5 separate regions of the Homo sapiens genome follow, and regions 1, 2, 4 and 5 are each linked to region 3. The links come from fine-mapping of genetic effects on gene expression. A gene starts in region 3. Each other region holds a variant in brackets. All regions are shown on one strand. Distances are from middle to middle.

Region 1 (5,108 bases), 77 kb after region 3:
TATTTTGATGTGTAAATGCTTAGGTCTTACACTTCTGGCCAAGATGGAGTAACAGAGACCAAAATTACTTTCTGACCTAAAACAACAAAAATACTGGACAAAATATATGAAACTATGGCCCTCAAGCAACAAAGGGAATCAATCACTGGAATCAAGCATCAAAGGGCAGTGATCCTCAAGAGATGAGAAACAAATGAGGCTAGCCCCACAATTGACCTCCCAAACACCTTAGAAAACTTTCCAAGCCACAGCACAGGAAGAAAGAATGCAGATGGAGCTCAGAGATCTTCCTGAGTTGAGAAGACAGAACTGTGAGTCTGGGAAGGCCAATGTGGCTAGAATTCATAGGGCAGAATATTGAGGAGGAGAGGGCTGTACAGAGACAGAGCTCTGGAAATCTGAAGATAATACTTACCCTCCTTGACTGTTTAACAGCGTAGTGATCAGAGTATGCAGGTATGAAAATCGCCTGAGAGGCTGGACCCGGTGGCTCGCACCTGCAATCCCAGCACTTTGGGAGGCTGAGGTGGGTGGATCACAAGGTCAGGAGATAGAGACCATCCTGGCAAACATGGTGAAACCCCATCTCTACTAAAAATACAAAACTTAGCTGGGTGTGGTGACACACGCCTCTAGAGTCCCAGCTACTCAGGAGGCTGAGGCAGGAGAATCTCTTGAACCTGGGAGGCAGTGGTTGCAGTCACCCGAGATCCAGCAAAGCATGGGCAACAGAGCAAGACTCAGTCTCCAAAAAAAAAAAGAAAGAAAAAAGAAAACTGCCTGAGAATGGAAAAAGAATCATCCACAAAGAGAGCCAGCCCCTCTTCCCCCCTGGCTCTTAGGACCCCCATCGCAAGGGGGTGAGACACCCCCCTTGATGCGGGGAGTGCGTGCCAGCCCCTCTTCCCTCCCTGGTTTTTAGGATCCGCGGTGGACTCACAGCCTGTTTACGGTATTCGGAGTGATATCATCTCCCCCTCTGGAAATTATAAACTATTTCACAGATGGGGGTACACCCTCGGTGTGCAGAGGGTGTACAGCCGTCTGTTTTGGGAGTAATATCATCGTCTTCCTCCCTGAATATTAACAACAGCATCACAGCTGTGTTTCTACTGCAGGTGTGATTGGGCGTCACCTCCTCCTCTCCCACGTGGAAATTAGAACCGATATCAGTGGGGGCGTGCACACCTTCTGTGATATTTAAAGTGACATCATCCTCTTCCCTCCAGGATCATGAGAACAATATCCCTGGGGGGGTACACTTTCTGCGATATTGGGAGTAATATCGACCTCTCGGCCTCTGAATATTAGGAACAATATCACAGGGTGGGTGTACACCTCCTGCTCTGTTATGGGGAGTAATATCTATCTATTACGGGGAGTAATATCATCCTCTCCCTTTCAGGATGTTAATAACAATATCACAGGGTGGGTGATCACAGCCTGCGATACTGGGATTATTATCATCCTCTCCCCCTCGGGATACCAGGAACAATATCACAGAAGAGGTGTACACTCCCTGCGATTTTGGAAGTAATATCCTACGCTTCTTCCATGAATATTAGGAGCAATATCACCGGGTGGCTGTACATTCATTGCTATGTTGGGAGTCATGTCATACTCTACTCCCTGGCTATTAGGATCAGTGTCACAGGGTGAGTGTACACCTACTGAGATATTAAAACTAATATCATGCTCTCCATCCCTGGATATTAGGAACAATATCACAGGTAGGTGTACACCCCCTGCGGTATTAGGAGAAATAATACGATTAATTATTAAGCATCAATCTTAATAATATTATTAATTGTTAAACTTCAGTCTTAATAATTATCAATGGTAATATTAATTAATAGTATAACGTTATTAATCATTAATGATTATTTTAAATGTACGATTATGCATGATTAAAATTATCTGTATTAATGTCATTTTTCAATAATATTAGTTATTAATCTTAATATTAATTATTGTTTTATTACCAACATCACTTATGACTGATTTATGTAACATTGATTAATAATATCATTATTTTATTATTAATAGTGATATTGTTATTATTAATAGTAATTGTTAATATTTTTAATCCGTATTAACTTTTACTATCTCTATTGCAATTATTAATATCGATGATTACTATTAATTATTAATATATTTATTACTATTAATAATTAATATAACTGTTCCCGATATCTGTGGGGGAGAGGATATTACTCCCGATGTCGCTGAAAGTGTACACCCCTCTATGATGTTTCTCCTAATTGCCAGGGCGTAGAGGATGACATGATTGAAGATATCGCTGCGGGTGTACCTCCGTTCAGTCATCTTGTTCCTAATGTCCTGGGTGGGAGCGGATGATATGACTCCCAATGTCGCAGGGGGCGTAGACCTCCCCCGTGATACTGTCCCTAACGTCCAAAGGTGGAGAGGATGATATTTCTTCCAGTTTCGCAGGGGATGTACACCACCCCTGAGATATGGATCCTAATATCCAGGGGGCGAGAGGATGATGTTAGTCTC[A/T]CTATTGCAGGAGGTGTACACTCCCTAGGGATATTGTTCCTAATATCCAGGGACGGAGAGGAAGATCTCACTCCCAATACAGCAGGGGGTGGACACCCTTCTGTGACACTGTCCCTAATAGCCAGCGGGGGAGGGGAAGATATTACCCCCAATATCGCAGGGGGTGTACACCCACCCCGGGATATTGTTCCTTATATCGAGAGGGGGATAGGGTGATATTGTTCCCAATATCGCAGGGGCTGTACACCCCTCCTGTGATATTGTTCTTAATATCCTAGGAAAGAGAGGATGATACTACACGCAATATCTCAGGGGGTGAACACCCACCTCCTTCAGATATTGTTCTTAATGTACTCCACCTCCCCCGACCAGGGATGTTGTTCCTCATATCCAGGGGAAGAGAGGCTAACATTACGCCCAATATCGCAGGGGGTGTACACACCCTCTGTGATGTTGTTCCTAGTATCCAAAGGTAGAGACGATGATATTACTGGCCATATCGCAGGGGGTGTACACCCCTCTTGTGATACTGTTCTTAATATTTAGAGAGGGAGACAATGATAGTACTGTCCATATTACTGGGGTCACAGCAGCCCCGTGACGTTGTTTTTAATATTCAGTTTGGGAGAGGATGATAATAATTTCAATATAACAGGGGACACCCCCGCCCCGTGATGTTGTCCCTAATGTCCAAGGGAAGAGAAATGATATGACTCACAATATGTCAAGGGGTGTACATCCCCTGTATAATATTCTTCCTAATATCCAGGGGGGATTAGAATGATATTACTCCCAGTATCACAGGGGGTGTACGCGACCCCTTTTATATTGTTTCTAATATCTAGGGAGGGAGAGGATGATATTACTCCCAATATTGTAGGGGTGTACACCCCTCCCGTGACATTGTTTTTAATATTTAGGTAGGGAGTGGATGATGTTACTCTCAATATCTCAGAGGGTTTACACTCTTCCTGGGATACGGTTTCCAATATTAAGTGGGAGAGAGGATGATATTATTCCCAGTATCGCAGGGGGTGTACATGTCCTGTTATTTTGTTCCTAATATCCAGGTTGGGAGAGGATGATATTACTGCCTATATCGTAGGAGTTGTACACCCCATCAGTGATATTATTCCTCATATTCAGGGGAAAAGAGAATGACATCACTCCCAATAGCGCAGGAGGTGTACACACCCCTTTGATATTGTTCCTAATACGCAGTGGAGGAGACGATGATATTACTGGCCATATCGCGAGGGGTGTACACCTCCTCTGTGATATTGTTTTTAATATCCAGGGGTTAGAGGATGACATTACTCCCATGATCGTAGTGGGTGTACACCAATTCTGTTTTATTGTTCTTAATATCCAGGGAGGGAGAGGATGATATTACTGTCACTATCGCAAGGGGTAGACACTCCTTCTTTGATATGGTTCCTAATATCCAGGGGGAAGAGTATGATATTAATCCCAAAATCGCTGTGGGCATACACCCCTTTTTGATATGGTTCCTAATACACCGGGGGAGAGTCTATGATATTACTGCCCATATCACAGGGTGTGTACACCAGAACTGCTATATTGTTTCTTATTTCCAGCAATGAAGAAGTTGCTATTACTCCCAAAATGGAATGGGCTGTAAACCCCCCATAAGATATTGTTCCTAATATCCAGGGGGAAAAGGATGATATTACTTTCAATGTTGCGGCAGGTGTATAATCTGCCTGTTATATTGTTCCTAACATCTGGGGTGGGGGCGGCGGGGTGAGAACGATATTACTCGCAATGTCTCAGAGGGTGTACACTGCCCCTGTGATATTGTTCTAAATATCCACTGGGGTAGAAAATCATATTACTCCCAATATCGCAGGTGGTGTAAACGCCCCCCGATATTTTTTCTAATATCCAGGTGAGGTAGGATGATATTACTCCCAATATCACAAGCGGTGTACACACCTTCTTTGATATTTTTCCTACTATTTACTTGTGGAGAGGATGATATTACTCCCAGTATCAAAAGAAGTGTACAAGCCCCCTGTGATATTGTTCCTAATATCCAGGTTAAAAGAGGATGATATTACCCCCAATATCGCAGGGGGTTGGCTGTACACTCCGCCTGTGATATTATTTCTAATATCCAGGGGAAGAGAGAATAATATTACTCCCAATATCGCAGGGGCTGTACGCACCTTGTGATATCGTTCCTAATATCAATGAGGGGAGGAGATGATATTACCCCAAATATCAGAAGAGGTGTACACCTTTCCTGTGATATTGTTCCTAATCTCCCTTTTGGGAGAGGATGATATTACTCACAATATCGCAGGGGTTATACACTTCCCCTGTGATATTGTTCCTAATATCCAAGTTGGGAGAGGATGATCTTACTCCCAATATCGCTGGGGGTATACACCCCTTCTGTGATATTGTTCCTAACATCCACAGGGGAAGAGATTAATATTACTCCCAATATCCCAGGGGGTGCACGTCCCCACTGTTATATTGTCCCTAATATCAAGCGGTGGAGAAAATGATATTACTCCCAATAGCGCCGTGTGTATACACCGCTCCTGTGATATTGTCCCTAG
Region 2 (5,108 bases), 140 kb after region 3:
TAGAAGCTGTAGTAAACTACCTAGAAGATGTAGCTAACATCATTCATGAAAGTAGCTACACTAAGCAACAGACTTATTTTTTATTTATTTATTTATTTATTTTGAGATGGAGTCTCGCTCTGTCACCCAGGCTGGAGTGCAATGTGCAATCTCAGCTCACTGCCACCTCCGTCTCCCGGGTTCAAGCCATTCTCCTACCTCAGCCTCCCAAGTAACTGGGATTACAGGCTCCCACCACCAAGCCAGGCTAATTTTTGGTATTTTTAGCTGAGATGGGGTTTCACTATGTTGGCCAGGCTGGTCTTGAACTCCTGAACTCGTGAACTGCCCACCTCGGCCTCCCAAAGTGCTGAGATTACAGGCATGAGCCACCGAGCCCGGCCAGCAACAGATTTTTAATGGAGATGAAATGGCCTCCTTTTGGAAGAAGATGCCATTTAGGACTTTCATAGCTATAGAGAAGTCAATGCCTGGCTTCAAAGATTCAAAGGACAGGCTGACTCTCTTGTTAGAGGCTAAAGCAGCTGGTGACTTCAAGTTGAAGCCAATAATCATTTACTATCCTAAAAATTCTAGGGCCATTAAGAATTATGCTAAATCTCCTCTGCCTGTTTTCTATAAATAATAAAGCCTAGATGACAGCACATCTGTTTACAGCACGGTTTAGTTTAAGCCCACCATTGAGATCTACTGCTTAGAAAAGAAAAGATTCCTTCAAAATATTATTGCTCATTGACAACGCACCTGATCACCCAAGAGCTGTGATGGAGATGTACAAGATTAATGTTGTTTTCATGCCTGCTAACACAACATCCATTCTGCAGCCCACTGATCAAGGAGTAACTTTGACTTTTAAGTCTTATTTAAGAAATATATTTCATAAGGCTATAGCTACCATAGACAGTGATTCCTCTGATGGATCTGGGCAAAGTAAATTGAAAACCTTCTGGAAAGGATTCATCATTCTAGATGCCATTAAGAACATTTGTGATTCATGGGAGATCAAAGTATCAACATGAATAGGAGTTTGAAAGATGATTCCAGCCCTCACAGATGACTTTGAGGGATTCCAGACTTCAATGGAGGAAATAACTGCCGATGTGGTGGAAACAGTAAGAGAACTAGAATTAGAAGGGGAGTCTGAAGATGTGACTCAATTCCTGCAATCTCATAAGAAAACTTTAACTAATGAGAAGTTGTTTCTTATGGACGGGAAAAGAACGTGGTTTCTTGAGATGGAATCTACTCCTGGTGAAGATGCTATGAACACTGTCAAAATGACAACAAAGGATTTAAAATATGACAGAAGCTTAATTGATAAAGCAGGGTTTGAGAGGACTGACTCCAATTTTGAAAGAAGTCATACTGTGGGTAAAATGCTATCAAATAGCATCATGTGCTATAGAGACATCTTTTATGAAAGGGAGAGTCAACTAATGCAGCAAACTTCATTATTATCTTATGAAATTGCGATAGCCACCCCAACCTTCAGTAACTACTACCCTGATTGGTCAGCACCCATCAACATCGTGGCAAGACCCTCTACCAGCAAAAAGACTATGACTTGCTGAAAGCTGAGATGATTGTTAGCATTTTTTAGCAATAAATATTTTTAATTAAGGTATGTATGTTTTTTAGACAATTCTATTACACATTTTATAGACTACAGTATAGTATAAACACAGCTTTTTTTTTTTTTTTTTTTTTTTTTTAAGAAATGGGGTCTCATGCTGTCATCCAGGCTGGAGTGCAGTGGTGCAATCATGACTCACTGCAGCCTCAAACTCCTGAGCTCAAGTGATCCTCCCAAGTAGCTGGGACTACAGGCCTGTGACATCACACCCGGCCAAAACGCATAACTTTTATATGCAATGGGAAACAAAAAAATGTGTGTGACTCACTCTATTGTGATATTCAGTTTACTGCAGTGATATGGAACTAAGCCCACAATATCCCTGCGGTATGGCTGTACAGTATAAGAATCACCTGAAGGGCTTATTAAAAACAGCTTGCTTGACCCCCTCCCTTAGAGATTCCGATTCAGTAGATCTGGGTTGGTCAAGAATTTGCCTTTCTAACAAGCTCCCAGCTGAGGCTGAGGCTGCCATTCAACATACTACCAAGTAGCACTGGCATAGAGAGATCCCTGGAATAAAATGTACCTACTTGTGTGTGTGTGTGTATGAATGTGTGTGTGTGTGTGTGTGTGCGCATGTGCATGTGCGTGTGTGTGTGTGTGTACAGTCTTGCTCTGTTGCCTGGGCTGGAGTGCAGTGGCGTGATCTCGGCTCACCGCAACCTCCGCCTCCCAGCTTTCAAGCGATTCTCCTGCCTTAGCCTCCTGAGTAGCTGGGATTATGGGGTGCGCCACATCGCCTGGCTAGTTTTTGAATTTTCAGTAGAGACTGGATTTCACCATGTTGGCTAGGCTGGTCTTGAACTCCTGGCCTCAAGGGATCCACCTGCCTCAGCCTCCCAAAGTGCTGGGATTACAGGCATGAGCCACCATGCCCAGCCCCTACTTGTATATCACAAAAGTGAGATGATTACTTTTCAACTTTCTTCTTTGTATTTTTTAGGTATTTAAATTTTTTTACAATGAATGTTCCATCTTTACCCAAACAATAAAATCTTTATTGTAAAGAAAGTTAGAAGCAAGAAACATTAACATTTTTTATAACTACAATTTGTATAAAAGCTTTCTCTGTGATCTTTAGTTTTTCTTTCTTCC[T/A]CTGAAAAGCTGAATCGTGTTTAATTAAACTCTCAAAAGTATCAAGTTTTTGTCTATAAAATGGCAAAACTGGCTATGATGAAATAAACTGATATTTGCTATTTCTAATAAAAGCATACAATATATTTTTCTTTCTTACCAGATTCAAATATTTAACACCAACATATTAGTCCAAGTCCTATCATCAGTCAGATTTATCAGAAAGGTATGAAAACCCATGCCTACTATAAGGACCAAAATAGCCTAATTCAATACTACTTTGAAAACATGGGGATGATGTTATTATGTAATTGTTTTAAGTACAATAACCACTGATCACATTTGAACTCTCAGGATACTTCAATATTTCTTTTGGACAACTATGACCTGTTGAGTAAATTACCCCCAAATACTTTAATATAGTTTTACAAATCGCCCCAATGCCAGAGACCCAGATCAAAAAAAAAAATAATGGTATGGGTCAGATTCACAGAATAAGCACTAACTTTTATGCAAAATGAAAATAAAGATTTTATCTAAAAGTTATTTGGGGAAAATAAGCAGACTTTATCAAGAATTAGAGCTTGGTAAGAAGGTAACAGAAACCCATTGTTAGAAACAGGTTGACTCTGTGTAGCTTTCCATAGTAGAGTTCAGAGTTTCCTGTCATGATTCCCTTATCAATGCAGTGTAATAACTACTTACACAGCACTTACATTGTATTAGGTATTATAAGTAATCTACAGATGATTTAAAGTATATGGGAGGATGTGCATAGCTTATAGGCAAATACTACACCATTTTATGTAAGGGACTTGAACATTAATAGATTTTGGTATCCTCAGAGATTCCGGAACTAATACCCCATGGATGCCAAGGGACAACTGTACTTAGAGGTAGAACGTCTCTGCTCTTCCTACATGTCCTTATTTTTAACAACTTCTGTTCTTACAAATAATCCTAAGTCAATCAATAAAACTTCAAATTCTATTAACAGCTTAAAAGTACCAAGAAATACTCTGTTCATTCATTCAACTGCCAAAGAAAATGACAACCGAGTACTTTTCCTCTTTTAAACCAAAAAAAGTTTTTGGTTTAATACTAACAAAAGCTTTAATCCTCATTTTAGATATTCCTCTAATACATCTATTTACAATATATCACAGAACTATATTCTGGTTATTAATAATCTCACTTCTTACCAGGGTCTGCTAATCCAGTGGTCTCTAACAGTATGTAATCAAATTTCCCCTTCTTTTGCATCAAATTCTCAATAGCTCTAAGGCCACTGTCCCTGGAGAATACCAAAACATAATTTACAGTTAATTACCTAAATATTTTGAAGTGATTATTATAAACACTTTAAAATATATTCAACAACCCGAGACAAAAGTACCCTTGGGAATGTGAAAATTTAACTCACTTCTAACCTTCTAACAAAATGTCCGTCCCATATTTACCAGTGAGAAAACAATAGATGCATATATATAATAGGTAAAAAGAAATCATATACATAATACTTTATCAAAATTAAAAGCAGAGGAAACTTTATCTGACCAAGTATCTTTTTATAGCTTTATGAAATTTTTAAAAACCAACATACAAAATAATGATAAAATGTATTAACTATAGTAGTTTAATATAATAGCTAAAGAGACACTGATATTAAACACCATATAATTCTATTTTACATTAGGATGCAAGGTTTTAATTTCCTTTTTTCTTATTTTATCAAAAGTGAAGGAAAATCCTTAATAGATTATATTTTGGTTGTTCAAGAAAGTCTGTTATAATTTTATCCTTGCCAAAACATTTGACACAAAGTCAAATACCTAAGGGAGTAAATGATGCCGAAGAGATTTAATTCACTAGAATACACAAAATTAACAGTACAAGTAGTCATTTTTATAATTCATTCAACAAATATTTGAGTGCTACTATGTGTTGGGTAACTCTTCTAGGGTCTATGGTAGACTAGTGAACACTGTCCTTGAAAACTTAACTAGTAGAACATAACGTAAGGTTTTTCTCTTTTTTGATAGTCATTTATTTTTTTTATAAGATTGAACACTTAGAAGTATGACCAATGACAGATTAAATTCAGAATAATCATTTTTTACATATGAGACTTTCATGCACTAGAGATTAAATAAGCCCTGACATCAAAAGCAATAAAAACTCAATAAAAGGACCAAAACATTAGAGCAGATAGAAAAGACAGCAAGAAACACTTTAAGAAAATGCTTCCTAATAAGTTTATTTTCTATTTGTTTGAAAATACAATGAAGCAAACTGTGTAAATTCAGTTAAATTACTCAAGAAAATTAAAGCTGGAAATATAATCAATAAACATTTCTAGTAAACCATGTACACAGTAAACACATTCCTCACTTCACTG
Region 3 (5,108 bases):
CAGCACACCCCTTTCAAGCATGTTCCTCCCTCCCCTTCTTTGTATTTATACTGATGCAAGTTTGCTGGCTGTCCTAACTTATTTCTGTGCCTCAGTTCTCCCATATGTAAGATCACAAAGGGGGTAAAGATGCAAGATATTTCCTGTGCACATCTTCAGATGAATTTCTTGTTAGTGTGTGTGTGTTTGCTCACACATATGCGTGAAAGAAGAGTACATACACAGATCTCCTCAAAAAGGAGGCAGCAAGCCCGTTCAAGAATGGGACTGAATACACCTGATGAGTGGTTTACTTTCTGTCTGCAAACATCTACTGATCATCTGTTAGGTGCAGGCCATGATCACAACAAAGACGAATAAGACACTACACTAGCCAGGGAGAGTCTCAAAAACAACTAAACTCAAATTAAATTCATTCTACTCCAGTCATGGGTACAAAGCTAAGGAGTGACAAATCCCTCTTGGAGTTAGGGGAGTCAGGAAAAAGCTCTTAGCAGAATGTGTGCCTCTCGGCCGGGCGCAGCGGCTCACGCCTGTAATCCCAGCACTTTGGGAGGCGAAGGCAGGCAGATCACCTGAGGTCGGGAGTTCGAGACCAGTCTGACCAACATGGTGAAACTCCATCTCTACTAAAAATACAAAATTAGCCAGGCGTGGTGGTGCAGGCCTGTAATCCCCGCTACTCGGGAGGCTGAGGAAGGAGAATCACTTGAACCGGGAAGGTGGAGGTTGCAGTGTGCCAAGATCGCGCCATGGCACTCCAGCCTAGGCAACGAGGGTGAACCAGGTCCAGGAAGAAGGTGCAAAGACAGCATTCCAGGTAAAAGAAACAGCTTGAACAAAAAGTGTGTAGGGGAACCGCAAGCGGTCTTGAGTGCTGAGGGTACAATCATCCTTGGGGAAGTACTAGAAGAAAGAATGATAAACAGAGGCCAGTTTGTTAAAAACACTCAAAATTAAAGCTAGGAGTTTGGACTTGTGGCAGGAATGAAATCCTTAGACCTGTGCTGTCCAATATGGTAGCCACCAGGCACATGCAGCCACTGAGCACTTGAAATGTGGATAGTCTGAATTGAGATGTGCCATAAGTGTAAAATATGCACCAAATTTCAAAGGCTAGAAAAAAAGAATGTAAAATATCTTATTATTTTATATTGATTACATGCTAAAATAACCATATTTGGGATATACTGGATTTTAAAAATATATCACTAATTTCATCTGTTTCTTTTTACTTTTAGAAATCACATATGTGACTTAAATATTTCTTTTCTTTTTCTTTCCTCTCACTCAGCGTCCTGTGATTCCAAAGAAATGAGTCTCTGCTGTTTTTGGGCAGCAGATATCCTAGAATGGACTCTGACCTAAGCATCAAAATTAATCATCATAACGTTATCATTTTATGGCCCCTTCTTCCTATATCTGGTAGCTTTTAAATGATGACCATGTAGATAATCTTTATTGTCCCTCTTTCAGCAGACGGTATTTTCTTATGCTACAGTATGACTGCTAATAATACCTACACATGTTAGAACCATTCTGACTCCTCAAGAATCTCATTTAACTCTTATTATCAGTGAATTTATCATCATCCCCTATTTTACATAAGGAAATGGGGTTAGAAAGACCAAATAACATTTTTTCAACATCAAAACACTAGCTTGAGATCAAGCCCAGACTTGGATCTGTCGTCTGAATTCCAAGCTTTTTGTTATTTATTGATATGTTTTGTTGTTTTCATGCAATAATGCAAATATTAGCCCAAACATTTTGTTAGTAGTACCAACTGTAAGTCACCTTATCTTCATACTTTGTCTTTATGTAAACCTAAATTAGATCTGTTTTTGATACTGAGGGAAAAACAAGGGAATCTAACACTAACCAGCCCGTAGTGTGTGGTCAACACTTTCGTTACTTTAGTATACATCACCCCAATTGTTTGTCTTCACCACACACTTTGGAGTTAGGTAGTAGTATCTATTTTTACAAATAAGAAAACCCAGGCACAAAGGGGTTGATTAGCAATTATCTTTTGAAAAGCCTGTAGTTGCTCATCTGAAGAAGTGACGGACCACCTCTTATTTAGTGGACAGACAGTAACTAGTTGAGAAGACAGGGGATTTTGTTGGCGGAAAAAAAATTTTATCAAAAGTCGTCTTCTATCAGGGAGTTTTATGAGAAACCCTAGCTCCTCAGTTCCACAGTGGGTAACTGTAATTCATTCTAGGTCTGCGATATTTCCTGCCTATCCATTTTGTTAACTCTTCAATGCATTCCACAAATACCTAAGTATTCTTTAATAATGGTGGGTTTTTTTTTTTTTTTGCATCTATGAAGTTTTTTCAAATTCTTTTTAAGTGACAAAACTTGTACATGTGTATCGCTCAATATTTCTAGTCGACAGCACTGCTTTCGAGAATGTAAACCGTGCACTCCCAGGAAAATGCAGACACAGCACGCCTCTTTGGGACCGCGGTTTATACTTTCGAAGTGCTCGGAGCCCTTCCTCCAGACCGTTCTCCCACACCCCGCTCCAGGGTCTCTCCCGGAGTTACAAGCCTCGCTGTAGGCCCCGGGAACCCAAAGCGGTGTCAGAGAAGTGGGGTCCCCTACGAGGGACCAGGAGCTCCGGGCGGGCAGCAGCTGCGGAAGAGCCGCGCGAGGCTTCCCAGAACCCGGCAGGGGCGGGAAGACGCAGGAGTGGGGAGGCGGAACCGGGACCCCGCAGAGCCCGGGTCCCTGCGCCCCACAAGCCTTGGCTTCCCTGCTAGGGCCGGGCAAGGCCGGGTGCAGGGCGCGGCTCCAGGGAGGAAGCTCCGGGGCGAGCCCAAGACGCCTCCCCGAGCGCGGCTCCAGGACCCCGTCGACCCGGAGCGCTGTCCTGTCGGGCCGAGTCGCGGGCCTGGGCACGGAACTCACGCTCACTCCGAGCTCCCGACGTGCACACGGCTCCCATCCGTTGTCTTCCGAGCGTCAGGCCGCCCCTACCCGTGCTTTCTGCTCTGCAGACCCTCTTCCTAGACCTCCGTCCTTTGTCCCATCGCTGCCTTCCCCTCAAGCTCAGGGCCAAGCTGTCCGCCAACCTCGGCTCCTCCGGGCAGCCCTCGCCCGGGGTGCGCCCCGGGGCAGGACCCCCAGCCCACGCCCAGGGCCCGCCCCTGCCCTCCAGCCCTACGCCTTGACCCGCTTTCCTGCGTCTCTCAGCCTACCTGACCTTGTCTTTACCTCTGTGGGCAGCTCCCTTGTGATCTGCTTAGTTCCCACCCCCCTTTAAGAATTCAATAGAGAAGCCAGACGCAAAACTACAGATATCGTATGAGTCCAGTTTTGTGAAGTGCCTAGAATAGTCAAAATTCACAGAGACAGAAGCAGTGGTCGCCAGGAATGGGGAAGCAAGGCGGAGTTGGGCAGCTCGTGTTCAATGGGTAGAGTTTCAGGCTGGGGTGATGGAAGGGTGCTGGAAATGAGTGGTAGTGATGGCGGCACAACGGTGTGAATCTACTTAATCCCACTGAACTGTATGCTGAAAAATGGTTTAGACGGTGAATTTTAGGTTATGTATGTTTTACCACAATTTTTAAAAAGCTAGTGAAAAGCTGGTAAAAAGAAAGAAAAGAGGCTTTTTTAAAAAGTTAAATATATAAAAAGAGCATCATCAGTCCAAAGTCCAGCAGTTGTCCCTCCTGGAATCCGTTGGCTTGCCTCCGGCATTTTTGGCCCTTGCCTTTTAGGGTTGCCAGATTAAAAGACAGGATGCCCAGCTAGTTTGAATTTTAGATAAACAACGAATAATTTCGTAGCATAAATATGTCCCAAGCTTAGTTTGGGACATACTTATGCTAAAAAACATTATTGGTTGTTTATCTGAGATTCAGAATTAAGCATTTTATATTTTATTTGCTGCCTCTGGCCACCCTACTCTCTTCCTAACACTCTCTCCCTCTCCCAGTTTTGTCCGCCTTCCCTGCCTCCTCTTCTGGGGGAGTTAGATCGAGTTGTAACAAGAACATGCCACTGTCTCGCTGGCTGCAGCGTGTGGTCCCCTTACCAGAGGTAAAGAAGAGATGGATCTCCACTCATGTTGTAGACAGAATGTTTATGTCCTCTCCAAATGCTTATGTTGAAACCCTAACCCCTAATGTGATGGTATGTGGAGATGGGCCTTTGGTAGGTAATTACGGTTAGATGAGGTCATGGGGTGGGGCCCTCATTATAGATCTGGTAAGAAAAGAGAGCATTGTCTCTGTGTCTCCCTCTCTCTCTCTCTCTCTCTCTCTCTCTCATTTCTCTCTATCTCATTTCTCTCTCTCTCTCTATCTCATTTTTCTCTCTCTCTCTTTCTCTCCTCTGTCTTTTCCCACCAAGTGAGGATGCGAAGAGAAGGTGGCTGTCTGCAAACCAGGAAGAGAGCCCTCACCAGGAACCTGTCCAGCTGCCACCTTGAACTTGGACTTCCAAGCCTCCAGAACTGTGAGGGATAAATGTATGATTTTAAAGTCGCCCAGTGTGTGGTATTTTGTTTTGACTAATACAACCTGAAAACATTTTCCCCTCACTCCACCTGAGCAATATCTGAGTGGCTTAAGGTACTCAGGACACAACAAAGGAGAAATGTCCCATGCACAACGTGCACCCATGCCTGGGTAAAGCAGCCTGGCACAGAGGGAAGCACACAGGCTCAGGGATCTGCTATTCATTCTTTGTGTGACCCTGGGCAAGCCATGAATGGAGCTTCAGTCACCCCATTTGTAATGGGATTTAATTGTGCTTGCCCTGCCTCCTTTTGAGGGCTGTAGAGAAAAGATGTCAAAGTATTTTGTAATCTGGCTGGGCGTGGTGGCTCATGCCTGTAATCCTAGCACTTTGGTAGGCTGACGCGAGAGGACTGCTTGAGCCCAAGAGTTTGAGATCAGCCTGGGCAATATTGTGAGATTCCATCTCTACAAAAATAAAATAAAATAGCCAGTCATGGTGTCACACACCTGTAGTCCCAGCTACATGGGAGGCTGAGGCGGGAGGATCACTTGAGCTTGGGAGATCGAGGCTGCAGTGAGCTATGATTGTACCACTGCACTCCAGGCTGGGCGACAGAGAGAGACCCTGTCTCA
Region 4 (5,108 bases), 57 kb after region 3:
ATTTTTCTTAGTACAGAACAAAATGAAAAGTCTCCCATGTCTACTTCTATCCACACAGACCCGGCAACCATCCGATTTCTCAATTTTTTCCCCACCTTCCCGCCTTTCTATTCCACAAAACCGCCATTGTCATCATGGCCCAACCCCAATGAGCCGCTGGGCACACCTCCCAGACGGGGTCGTGGCCGGGCAGAGGGGCTCCTCACCTCCCGGACGGGGCGGCTGCTGGGCGGAGACGCTCCTCACTTCCTATAGGGGGTGGCGGCCGGGCAGAGGCTGCAATCTCGGCACTTTGGGACGCCAAGGCAGGCGGCTGGGAGGTGCAGGTTGTAGCGAGCCGAGATCACACCACTGCACTCCAGCCTGGGCCCCATTGAGCACTGAGTGAACGAGACTCCGTCTGCAATCCCGGCACCTTGGGAGGCCGAGGCTGGCGGATCACTCGCGGTTAGGAGCTGGAGACCAGCCCGGCCAACACAGCAAAACCCCGTCTCCACCAAAAAAAAACGAAAACCAGTCAGGCGTGGCGGCGCGCGCCTGCAATCGCAGGCACTCGGCAGGCTGAGGCAGGAGAATCAGGCAGGGAGGTTGCAGTGAGCCGAGATGGCAGCAGTACCGTCCAGCTTTGGCTCGGCATCAGAGGGAGACCCCTACTCTGCTATTCTAACCATGAATCCCTCTGGGGCCCCTTCCTCCTACGGCGCTTGTGAGGATGAAATGAAATAAGCTCTATGAAGTGCCCAACAGTGACCAACACTGAATAAAATACAGCCACCATAGGTGGCCTTCCCTTATGTTCACCAAACTCCTGATAAGTTATTCGGTGATGTTTTAATCTTAATATTTTATGTAGATTATACATTCATCTGATTCAAAATGCAAAAGGTACAAAAGCGTATACAGTTAAAAGCTTCCCAACCCACTACCATTTATCTCCCTGGAGGCAACTGTTTCCAGATTTTTGAATATCCTTAAAGAATATCATATGTATGGAAAAGAAAGATTATATATTTATATGCATCTGTGTATGCATTTTCCTATGAGAGGCTCACAAAGTCTCCTTGAAGAGATATCATTATTACAAATACCCCTCAATTTACAATGGGGTTATATTCCAATAAACTTATGAAAATATTGTAAGCTGAAAATGCATTTAATACACTTAACCTACTAAACATCATAGCTTAGCTCGGCCTACCTTAAACACTCACATTAACCTACAGTTAGGCAAAATCATCTAACAGAAAGCCCATTTTATAATAAAGTGGGTTTTGAATATCTCATGTAATATAATGAATACTGTACTGAAAGTGGAAAACAGAATGGTTGTATGGGTACTCAAAGTACAGCTTCTGCTGAATGTGTATTGCTTTCAAACTATCTTAAAGTTGAAAAATCATAAGTCAAAATATTGTAAGTCAGGGATTGTTTGTACTTCCACTTTACATGATGAAATTGAGCCTTGAAAAGATTAAGTGACTCGCCCAAGGTCACACTGGCAGTTAAACAGTGAAACTTGGATCCAAATTGTTCAGTCAGTACATGTATTGTCTTGAAATCTGAAAAAGAGGAAGAGGAACTAAACTACTAAATTGAAGGAATATTTTAGGCATAGAAGAAGCAGATGCCTTCATGTCCAAGTGATTGTGAAAAGCCCACTTGCCCCAAAATATGTCTCCTGGTCATATGAAATTCCACCATTTCAGATTTTTACCTGGGGATTTAGAGTAATCTGCTGTTTTCCTAGAGCTCCCCTAAAATAGAAATAGAAATTTTGGAAGGCTAAATATATGCTAACATTGGAAAACTCATTTTCTCCCCTTCGTAAGGCAAGGTACTGAAGGAGGGGGCCCTACAGGCTGTGCAGGGACATCCTGGAGGCATGGGGAGAAGAAACTGAAAGGCAAGGTTGTATGGAACAAAGAATACCGATCTCAGGATTCTCTCTTGAACCTGCCCTAACTTTGTTCAAATAGACTTAGCCACTGACCTGCTGTCAAAAGACCGCAGCCAATCTGACTTGTTTTCAACATAATGATGAATATTGATTTGGTCCCTTCATCCAACATTCTCAGCTGGATCTTTTTTTGACCAAGGATATACATTACTAGGCGAGTACAGGCAGTTAATTCTTCCACAGGGGACTTTGGAGTTTCTGAGTTAACCAGAATCACCCACCTTAACATCTGCCAGTTTATACCCCAAGTCCTGACCAGTGCCCCCTACCTGCTATGCCTCATGTTTTCAATATAGCATAAGATCTGAAATGAAAGATGAAACATCATAGCCAATATCACAGAAATACAAAGGATCCTAAGAAACTCCTATGTATAATTACACACTAACCAATTGGATCATCTAGAAGAAATGGATAAATTCCCAGACACATAAAACCTACCAAGATTGACTCATGAAGAAATTAAAAAATCTGAACAGACTAATAGCAAGCAAGGAGGTTGAATCAGTAAGAAAATGTCTCCCATCAATGAAAAACCCAAAACCAGATGGCTTCCCAGATTAATTCTACCAAATATTTTAAGAAGAACTAATACCAGTCCTTCTCAAACTCTTCCAAAAAGCTGAAGTGGAGGGAATACTTCCAAACTCATCTTACAGGGCCAGCATTACCCTGATTCCAAAGCCAGACAAGAACACTACAAGAAAGGAAAATGACAGGCCAATATCCTTGATCTACATAGATGCAAAAATCCTCAACAAAATCCTAGCAAACCAAATTCAATAGCACATTGAAAGAATCATTCACCACGATCATGTCATGGTTCAACATAAGCAAATCAATACATATAATATACCATATTAGAAAAATAAAGGATAGAAACTATATGGCCATCT[C/T]AATAGATATAGAAAAAGCTTTTGACAAAATTCGAAACCCTTTCATGGTGAAAAAAAAACACCCAACAGATCACGTATTGAGGGACTGTATCCCAACAAAATAAAGGCCATATATGACAAACCCATAGCTAACACCATAATCAATGGTGAAAAGTTGAAACTTTTCCTCTACCATCAGGAACAAGACAAGGATGCCCACAGACACCACTTCTCAGGGTAATTAGGCAATAGAAAGAAATAAAAGGCATCCTAATAGGAAAGGAAGAAGTGAAATTGTCTCTACTGACAGCATGATCTTGTTATATATAGAAAACCCTACAAACTTCACTGAAAAAAGGTTAGAACTCAACACAAAGAAGGGAACAATAGACACTGGGGGGACTCCAAAGGTGGGAGGGAAGGATGGTGGGAGCAAGAGTTGAAAAACTGCCTATCGATTACTATGCTCACTGCTTGGGTGGTGGGATCATTAGAAGCCCAAACCTCAGCACCATGCAATATACCTGTGTAAGAAACCTGTACATCTACCCTCCTGACTCTAAAATGAAACATACAATATTTAGAAAACAAAAACAAATAAAATTTGAAAACTGTTAGAACTGAACTGATAGGTGAAATCAGTAAAGTTGTAGGATACAAAATCAACATATAGAGCCTTGAACACAGCAACATCCAGCTGTCTGACATGAAAGTCTCAGGGGCAAGAAAACCTCTATATGAACTCAGAAACAATGAGCTAAGTTGTGTTTATGTCTGAAAGGATGTTAAGAACTGCATTCATGTTACATCAGAGCCAACAGAAAGAACCAACAGGAAACCTGTACCCAACAAACAGAAATGACAAGATGAAGGGAAAGCAGAGGTAAGGGCTTACCTTAGAAAGGGCAAGTGATTAGCTCAATATGCAATACAATGTTTGCTCCTGAGCCAAAAATTTGTACAATAATTTGGATATTACTTGCACAACCAGAAAAATCAGCCACTCATTAGGAAAATGTGTTTCTGTATAAGTCTTAGGACTCAGCTATCTATAATAACATGAAAAGACAATATTTTCATCCAAAATGAGTATTTTTGTTTGTCTTGGCTTGTTATTCTAACGTCAACAGCCTCTAAATAAACTGTTGAAGTACATGATATAACCACCTCTTTCTCCATCTTTCCCATTGCTCCCATAGGGTTTCAGTTGTGCAATTTCACCATTAGCAAAGCTTTTTGCTGAAATCTGGCTTTTCAAAGGGAGAGTATCCAGAAACAGAAGATGCTGCTCTGAGAGGCTCTTCCTAATAGAACTGCTGCTTCAGTTTAGCTTGAAAAAGCCCACACCCAGTTCCTAATGACAAACATCTGAACACCGGGTCTTCCCACGAGCAAGACCATGCTATGCCTCCTGCTCGCTCTGTTCTATAAGCAACCCACAGATTGCTCCCTGTGAAGAGGAGCCTGCCAGGGGAGCAGCATTCCACCAGACCCTGATTTAGCAAGATATTTCCGTATCATTCCCCCAACCAGCTGGAAGTCCTCCACTGCTCTTGTGTAAAAATCTAACTCATCTCGCTGAATTTCCTGATTTAAAAGTCTAATTCATTTCACCAAAAGTGTGACAGAAGGAAACCAAGTACACCATCTCTCTCTTACCAAACCGAAGCTATTGCATGTGCATTCTGGGGGAAAAAATGGTCCAAATATGTTATGGAGGGGGTGCCAGCCCAGTGTCATCCTCTTACTATTGCCATAGGATCTTGGCTGATGGCATCAGAGGAAAAACAAGTTTATCGATTACTTTCAACCATTAAGCTCACTCCTCCATGAAAAATAAGTCACAAGTCCAATGTCTCTTATTAAAATAAGCACTGCAAAATACAAAGGAGTCACAGTTTTAAAATGGGACACACGTTCTCTAAGCGGTGAACCACGTTAGAGGTGCACTGTTTACATTGTATAAAGTCCCCTGGAGCCAGGGTTAGGAAGCGCATCTGTTCTTTGGTGTTCTGGGATGAAGGAGAAAGGAAAATGTGCTGCCAGAAGTGAGTGGGAAGGAGCCCATGAGATAAAGGAAGTAAATCCATTTGCTGATTGCAATAATAATGGTAATACACGAAGCTATACATACATACATACATACATACATGCATGCATGCATGCAAATTTTCACATTTTTTAAAAAAAAGAACTTAAGGCTTCCACACATGTAATCAGCCCTTATGAACTCTCCTGATTAGCTGCAAGGAAAATCTTCCTTTCTCCTTTTTCCT
Region 5 (5,087 bases), 180 kb after region 3:
TTAATTTTGTATTTTTAGTAGAGACGGAGTTTCTCCATGTTGGTCAGGCTCGTCTCGAACTCCTGACCTCAGGTGATCTGCCCGCCTCGGCCTCCCAAAGTGCTGGGATTACAGACATGAGTCACCGTGCCTGGCCTCAATGATAATTTTTAAAGGAAAGTTTGCTAATCTTTGTTCTTTTCATATTGAAAGATTTTTTATGACAAAACAAGGAATGACGTGAAGAAAATTAGGAGCTACAAATTCTAATATCTAAAGTATGGCTGGTTTTAAATACCTGCACTCAAATCTTTCTGTATGTTTCACCAATTGTAAGACAACAATAAAGATATCTACTTGCTGGTTTGATTTTTCAAACCAAGAAACAAATACAAAACAGAGTTGAAAGATATTCATAAAAAGGCACAACTAAAATAAGAGAATAAAAAGGTAAAAACTGTCATTGTCTCCTGAAAGACAAGTGAAACTTGGCCATTCCCATTCAAGTTCACTTATTCATTCATTTATTCAATAAATACTTTTTGAGCACCTACTATATGCCAGGGCTCTAGACAGTAGAGATAGAGCACAAATTAACCAAACAAAAACCTCTGCATTGATGGAACTTTTATTCTAGAAGCATAAGAGATAATAAACAAATAAATAAAATATATAGTATGTCAGATGGTCATAACAGCTATGGAGAAAAACAAAGTTGGAAAAGGAGTTAGAAAGTGTCAGGACAAGGGAAGGGGGCACTGTCATGTTAACTAGATGTTCTTGGAAGGTGACATTTGAACTAAATCTGGGGAGGTCCTGCGTGGTTTTGGGGAAGAAGGAAGGGACATGAAAATGATCACACTTTTTTTTCCTCTCTAGTCCTGTCCTCAGGATCTTGCATTCCACTGCGCTGTGTTTATTGGTAATGACCCACACTTTTAATTAATTAAATGATGCTGTCAGACTGAAAGAGACACTCCATCCAATAGAGATGGAGCATGGTAGCTTGACTCAGACCCTGAGGGATGGGCAGAGACTGGATGTGGTGCGAGGCGAGGACAGCAGGAAGGATAACGTAAGCAGGAAGAGGGCCTGGGCAGACAGGAGCACCGCCTGCTTTAGGGACAAGCTGGAGATCTTCCCTGCTCCAACAGAAAGGTAAAGAATAAAGCTGGTTTTGTGAAGTGGGCATACGAGCTAGCTAGAAAAGGTCACGCTTGGTCATAGAGGCTACAGGAAGTCACCAAAGCTAAATGAGCAGAGAAGAAATATGGTGAAACAGGTATTTTAGTAAACTTCATCTAGTGATAGAAACAGATGAGATAGGAGAAAGAAGAGGCTACAGGCAGTGAAGCCATTTAAAATCTTATTTTTGTTATCTAGGTATTAATTTATAAGGGCTGGACCGGAATGAAAGCCACTGTGAGAACAGTGATATTTACAAAGAAGTGATATTTATAAGAAATAAATGGCAGACCTTGGTAGGTGATTAGATCTGAAGGACACAGGAGGAAAAAAAGTTAGAGCTGACGTATTTCTAAAGTTCAGAGAGAGGCAAGCAGATGGAGTCATTCCAAGATACAGGCCTCTGTGATCCAAAGACCGTGTGACTTACTCGGGATTACACAATTAGCAAAAAGCTGAAGCCAGAACCCAGATTTCCTGCTTTTCCCTCCACTGGATGACTCCAAAGTTTTAAACCTGGAAAATGAGGAAGTAGTGTGCCACCACCGACCCCCCAAAAAATGTGTGATTATGGAGAGATAGCTAGCTTCCAGTTAAGTAGGGTAGATGGAGAATTTTAGTTTTATACTGGAGTTTGAAGATGTTAGAGTACAGAAATCTGGGAAATAGGCAAAACTTTAGGATAGGAAATGGCTCTGCCCTTACTAGTTTGTAATCTTGGTCAAGTCACTTAACTTCTCTAAGCCTCAGTTTCTCCAGTTGCAAAGAGGTATGTGTGGGGGGGTTAATGTTATTATTTAATGGTTGCTATGAATTAATTTTTATAAAGGACTTGGAGCAGTACCCGGTACAAGATAAGTGTTATTTAGTTGTTTGTTCAATAAAATAGGTAAGATGCAATGTAGAGAAAGAGGTCGGCTTTCTGGGGAGGTAAGAAGAAGATGTGGGGAAAACTAGAGCATTTAGGATAATTGATGTATGGTCTGAGATAGAAGTCAAGGGAAGAGTTGTATAAAGGTGAAAAACAAAATTGAATGACACAAAGATACGGAGAAAGAGGAAGGCCAAGAGAGACCATCAGATGCGGAAAGAAGGAGGCCTCCCAGAGTTCTCTCTGGACAGAGGGCTGATGGAAAACGAAAGAGGCAGTGAGAATAAGGAAGAAAGGCACTTGGATGGCTATTTGCCAGCAATATGTGAATGTATCTAACAGCAGATCAAACTTGAAAACAGGCATTTGACTAAATTAATGGATAACACATTCATGGTGAATTGTTAAAAGAGTGTTAAGGAAATCTGGAGACAATTCTAACCATCAAGAAATTGACAGCACAGAGGATAATAATGCTGGCCTAACCTTCATGGTTAGGTACCAAATACTAAATCTATTGCAGTATGATCTGAGGCAAGATGGAAGGTTTTATGATTCCCACATTCACCCAAAAAGTTTCCTTGATTGCAAATGCTGAAAATCTGAGATGCTTTCATTACATTTTATTTATGTTTGTGTGAAACCAGTATATTTTTGTTCTATATGAAAATGTATGTCATAAACATTCAGAAATTCAGAGGAGTTCATCCGAAAGGCTGACATGGTACACCGTGGACCGAAGCCTCTGGGGCAAAATGTTTTCTATGTATCATTCGTTGAGTCT[C/G]AGTTTGAAGAAGTACTTACACATTTGTTCTCTTTGTATTTTGCTATCCAAATGTTTGCTCATAAATTCCAATGTAGTAAATAAGGACAGTTTTGAAAGTCAGAAACTCTAAATTTCAAAAAAGCTTTATTTTTCTTTGGGTTTGTTTTCGTATGTAGTCTATTGTAGTCTATGCAGTGAACTTTGTCTTATATGCTTAAAAGGGCACTGATATTTGGTGGGCATTGGGGGGCGGGGAGTTACCTAACCAGTACTGAAAAGTTACTAAACTACCTGACACAGCTGAAACCAGGAAGGAAGGCTGTATCAGGAAGAGACTGAATATAGTCCTTAGGTGGATTTTAGTATTAGGTGACAAATTAGGTTGTATTGGACTGGCACTGTCCAATAGGAATATAATGAGGCTCACAAATGTGAGCCACATGTGTAATTTTACATTTTTAAAAATGCAAACCACATTTTTAAAAGGGGAAAACAAACAGGTGAAATTAACTTTAATAATATATTTTTTATATCCAAAGTATCATTTAACATGCAATCAACATGAAAATCATTAACAAGACATTTTACACGATGTTTTCTGCGCTGTCTTTAAATTCCAGTGTACATTTTACACATCCAGCAGTGGGCAATTCAGACTAACCATAATGCCGAGTGGTCAATAGCCACATGTGGCTAGTGGCTATCATATTAAATAGTGCAGGTTTGAACCAAAAATACTTCGCTTTGGTTGTTTTTTTTTTTTTCTTTTAGACGGAGACTTGCTCTGTCGCCAGGCTGGAGTGCAGTGGCAGATCTCGGTTCACTGCAAGCTCCGCCTCCCGGGTTCAAGTGATTCCCCTGCCTCAGCCTCCCAAGTAGCTGGGACTAAGGCGTGCGCCACCACGCCCGGCTAATTTTTTGTATTTTAGTAGAGACGGGGTTTCACCACGTTGGCCAGGATGGTCTCGATCTCCTGACCTCGTGATGCGCCCGCCTCGGCCTCCCAAAGTGCTGGGATCACAGGCGTGAGCCACCGCGCCCGGCCTGCTTTGGTATTTTTTAAGAGCAAGTTGGTAAATGGAGGCATTATATGGAGAGTGCTCGAGTATATATAGCACAGGTTAGAGCAGCACGCCGGCACCTTGAAGCGAACACGGGCTCCTCCACTCCCGTCAACACTGGGACTTTTCTGTTTTTATCTTGAGTTTGAGGCCGGGCTTCTTAGCAGACCTCAGTCTGAAACTGAAATAAACCTGGACGCAGCGTACCCTTGAATCGCAAGAACGCCGCCTTCAGTGTTTCTCCGGAGAAAAGCATTCACGCCAGGTTGTGACGAAAACATTTTTTGAGAACTCATAATGTTTATTCCTTGGATGAATCCATTATATTTATTTAGTGTCTCAGGAAGGATGATGGGCATATTGCTTGCAAAAGTTGATTTGAATCCTGATAGATTCCACTAACTTTTTTGTCTTTTTTTTTGGCTGCCTTCTTCGAGAATGGTGTCAACCCTTAATAACACCTAGCCTTACGAATCCCTGGGGTGATTCCCGACCTCGCCAGCTTTGTGGGGCTCCCCCGACTTGCCTACATTCCCTGGCAGCCTCGCAGCTTCGGGCAGATGGAGCTTCCGGCCTGCGCGCAGTGGTCGCCTGTCGTCCGCCCGCGCTCCCTTCGGCCGGAGGTCGGCGGCCCCGGGCAGAGCGCGCCGTCTGCCCCAGTATCGGGAGGCCAGTTCCGCGCTGGGCCCACGCCCTCCTCGCCCGCCGCTGCCTGCGCGCCAGGCCGGGTGGCGGAGCCGGCCGTCGCTGCTCCGAGCTCGGACCCTCCCCCGGGGTGATTTCGGCTTAGAAGGTGGAAATGCGGAAGTTTCCAGCGCCGACCGACAGACGAGGTTTGCGCTTGGCTGGGCATGTTCCGCGGCTACTCTGCGGCGCGCCAGGCCCCCGCTTTCCGCACCCCGCGACCCTAGAAGCCACCGAACCGCCGGCGGGCCATGGCCACTCTGCCGAGCGCAGAGCGCCGCGCGTTCGCGCTCAAGATCAACAGGTAAGACGCCCCCCGCGGCGCGCAGGTTGCGGCCGGACAGCCCAGCGCTGGTGTGAAGCGGAGCTTCGCTGCAGGGGCCGAGGCCGGACGAGTCCATTCGCGTCCGCGGCGGGGCGCGCCTGAGACCTGGGGCGCCCGGTTCCCGAGGCTGCGGCGGTGGAGCCGCTGGACGCGCGGCGGCTCCTGCGCTGGGCCCGGCGAGGTCCTCCCCAAGAATCTCGGTGCTCCTGGATGTCC

Alleles and levels. Alleles are on the strand shown, and positions count from the first base shown. SD is a standard deviation of normalised expression in the study named. Not every link is listed here.
For the expression in lymphoblastoid cells of the gene that starts at base 3,064 in region 3, allele A in region 1 goes with a higher level than allele T (large effect, 0.85 SD a copy in TwinsUK).

Evidence for each region.
Region 1: its variant is fine-mapped to the expression of WASHC1 in lymphoblastoid cells (TwinsUK, PIP 0.95). The same link has a PIP of 0.9 or more in skin.
Region 2: its variant is fine-mapped to the expression of WASHC1 in whole blood (INTERVAL, PIP above 0.99).
Region 4: its variant is fine-mapped to the expression of WASHC1 in whole blood (TOPMed, PIP above 0.99). The same link has a PIP of 0.9 or more in blood mononuclear cells.
Region 5: its variant is fine-mapped to the expression of WASHC1 in whole blood (TOPMed, PIP above 0.99).

The regions. Positions count from the first base shown.
Region 1 is chr9:103,274-108,381 of GRCh38, forward strand. It overlaps LINC01388 (long intergenic non-protein coding RNA 1388), which reads right to left. Exons shown (of 8, transcript NR_187612.1): 6 at 416-521. Among named protein-coding and RNA genes, the nearest start is that of LINC01388, 8.0 kb to the right of the region's middle. The variant A/T (reference allele first, on the strand shown) is at 2,521.
Region 2 is chr9:168,169-173,276 of GRCh38, forward strand. ZNG1A (Zn regulated GTPase metalloprotein activator 1A) reads right to left here. Exons shown (of 15, transcript NM_018491.5): 3 at 5,102-5,108; 4 at 3,913-4,004. Among named protein-coding and RNA genes, the nearest start is that of ZNG1A, 8.3 kb to the right of the region's middle. The variant T/A (reference allele first, on the strand shown) is at 2,732.
Region 3 is chr9:26,393-31,500 of GRCh38, forward strand. WASHC1 (WASH complex subunit 1) reads right to left here and starts at 3,064. Exons shown (of 11, transcript NM_001378090.1): 1 at 2,920-3,064. MIR1302-9HG (MIR1302-9 host gene) reads left to right here and starts at 3,267. Exons shown (of 3, transcript NR_197460.1): 1 at 3,267-3,490; 2 at 3,950-4,053; 3 at 4,366-4,499. It overlaps MIR1302-9 (microRNA 1302-9), which reads left to right and starts at 3,752; the gene lies at 3,752-3,889.
Region 4 is chr9:83,253-88,360 of GRCh38, forward strand. All of the region lies in intron 2 of PGM5P3-AS1 (PGM5P3 antisense RNA 1), which reads left to right. Among named protein-coding and RNA genes, the nearest start is that of PGM5P3-AS1, 13 kb to the left of the region's middle. RefSeq lists an enhancer at 1-132. The variant C/T (reference allele first, on the strand shown) is at 2,854.
Region 5 is chr9:210,180-215,266 of GRCh38, forward strand. It overlaps DOCK8 (dedicator of cytokinesis 8), which reads left to right and starts at 4,686. Exons shown (of 48, transcript NM_203447.4): 1 at 4,686-4,850. The coding sequence starts at 4,798. DOCK8-AS1 (DOCK8 antisense RNA 1) reads right to left here. Exons shown (of 1, transcript NR_160804.1): 1 at 3,278-5,087. RefSeq lists silencers at 4,441-4,690, 4,701-4,750, 4,801-4,850, 5,021-5,087. The variant C/G (reference allele first, on the strand shown) is at 2,820.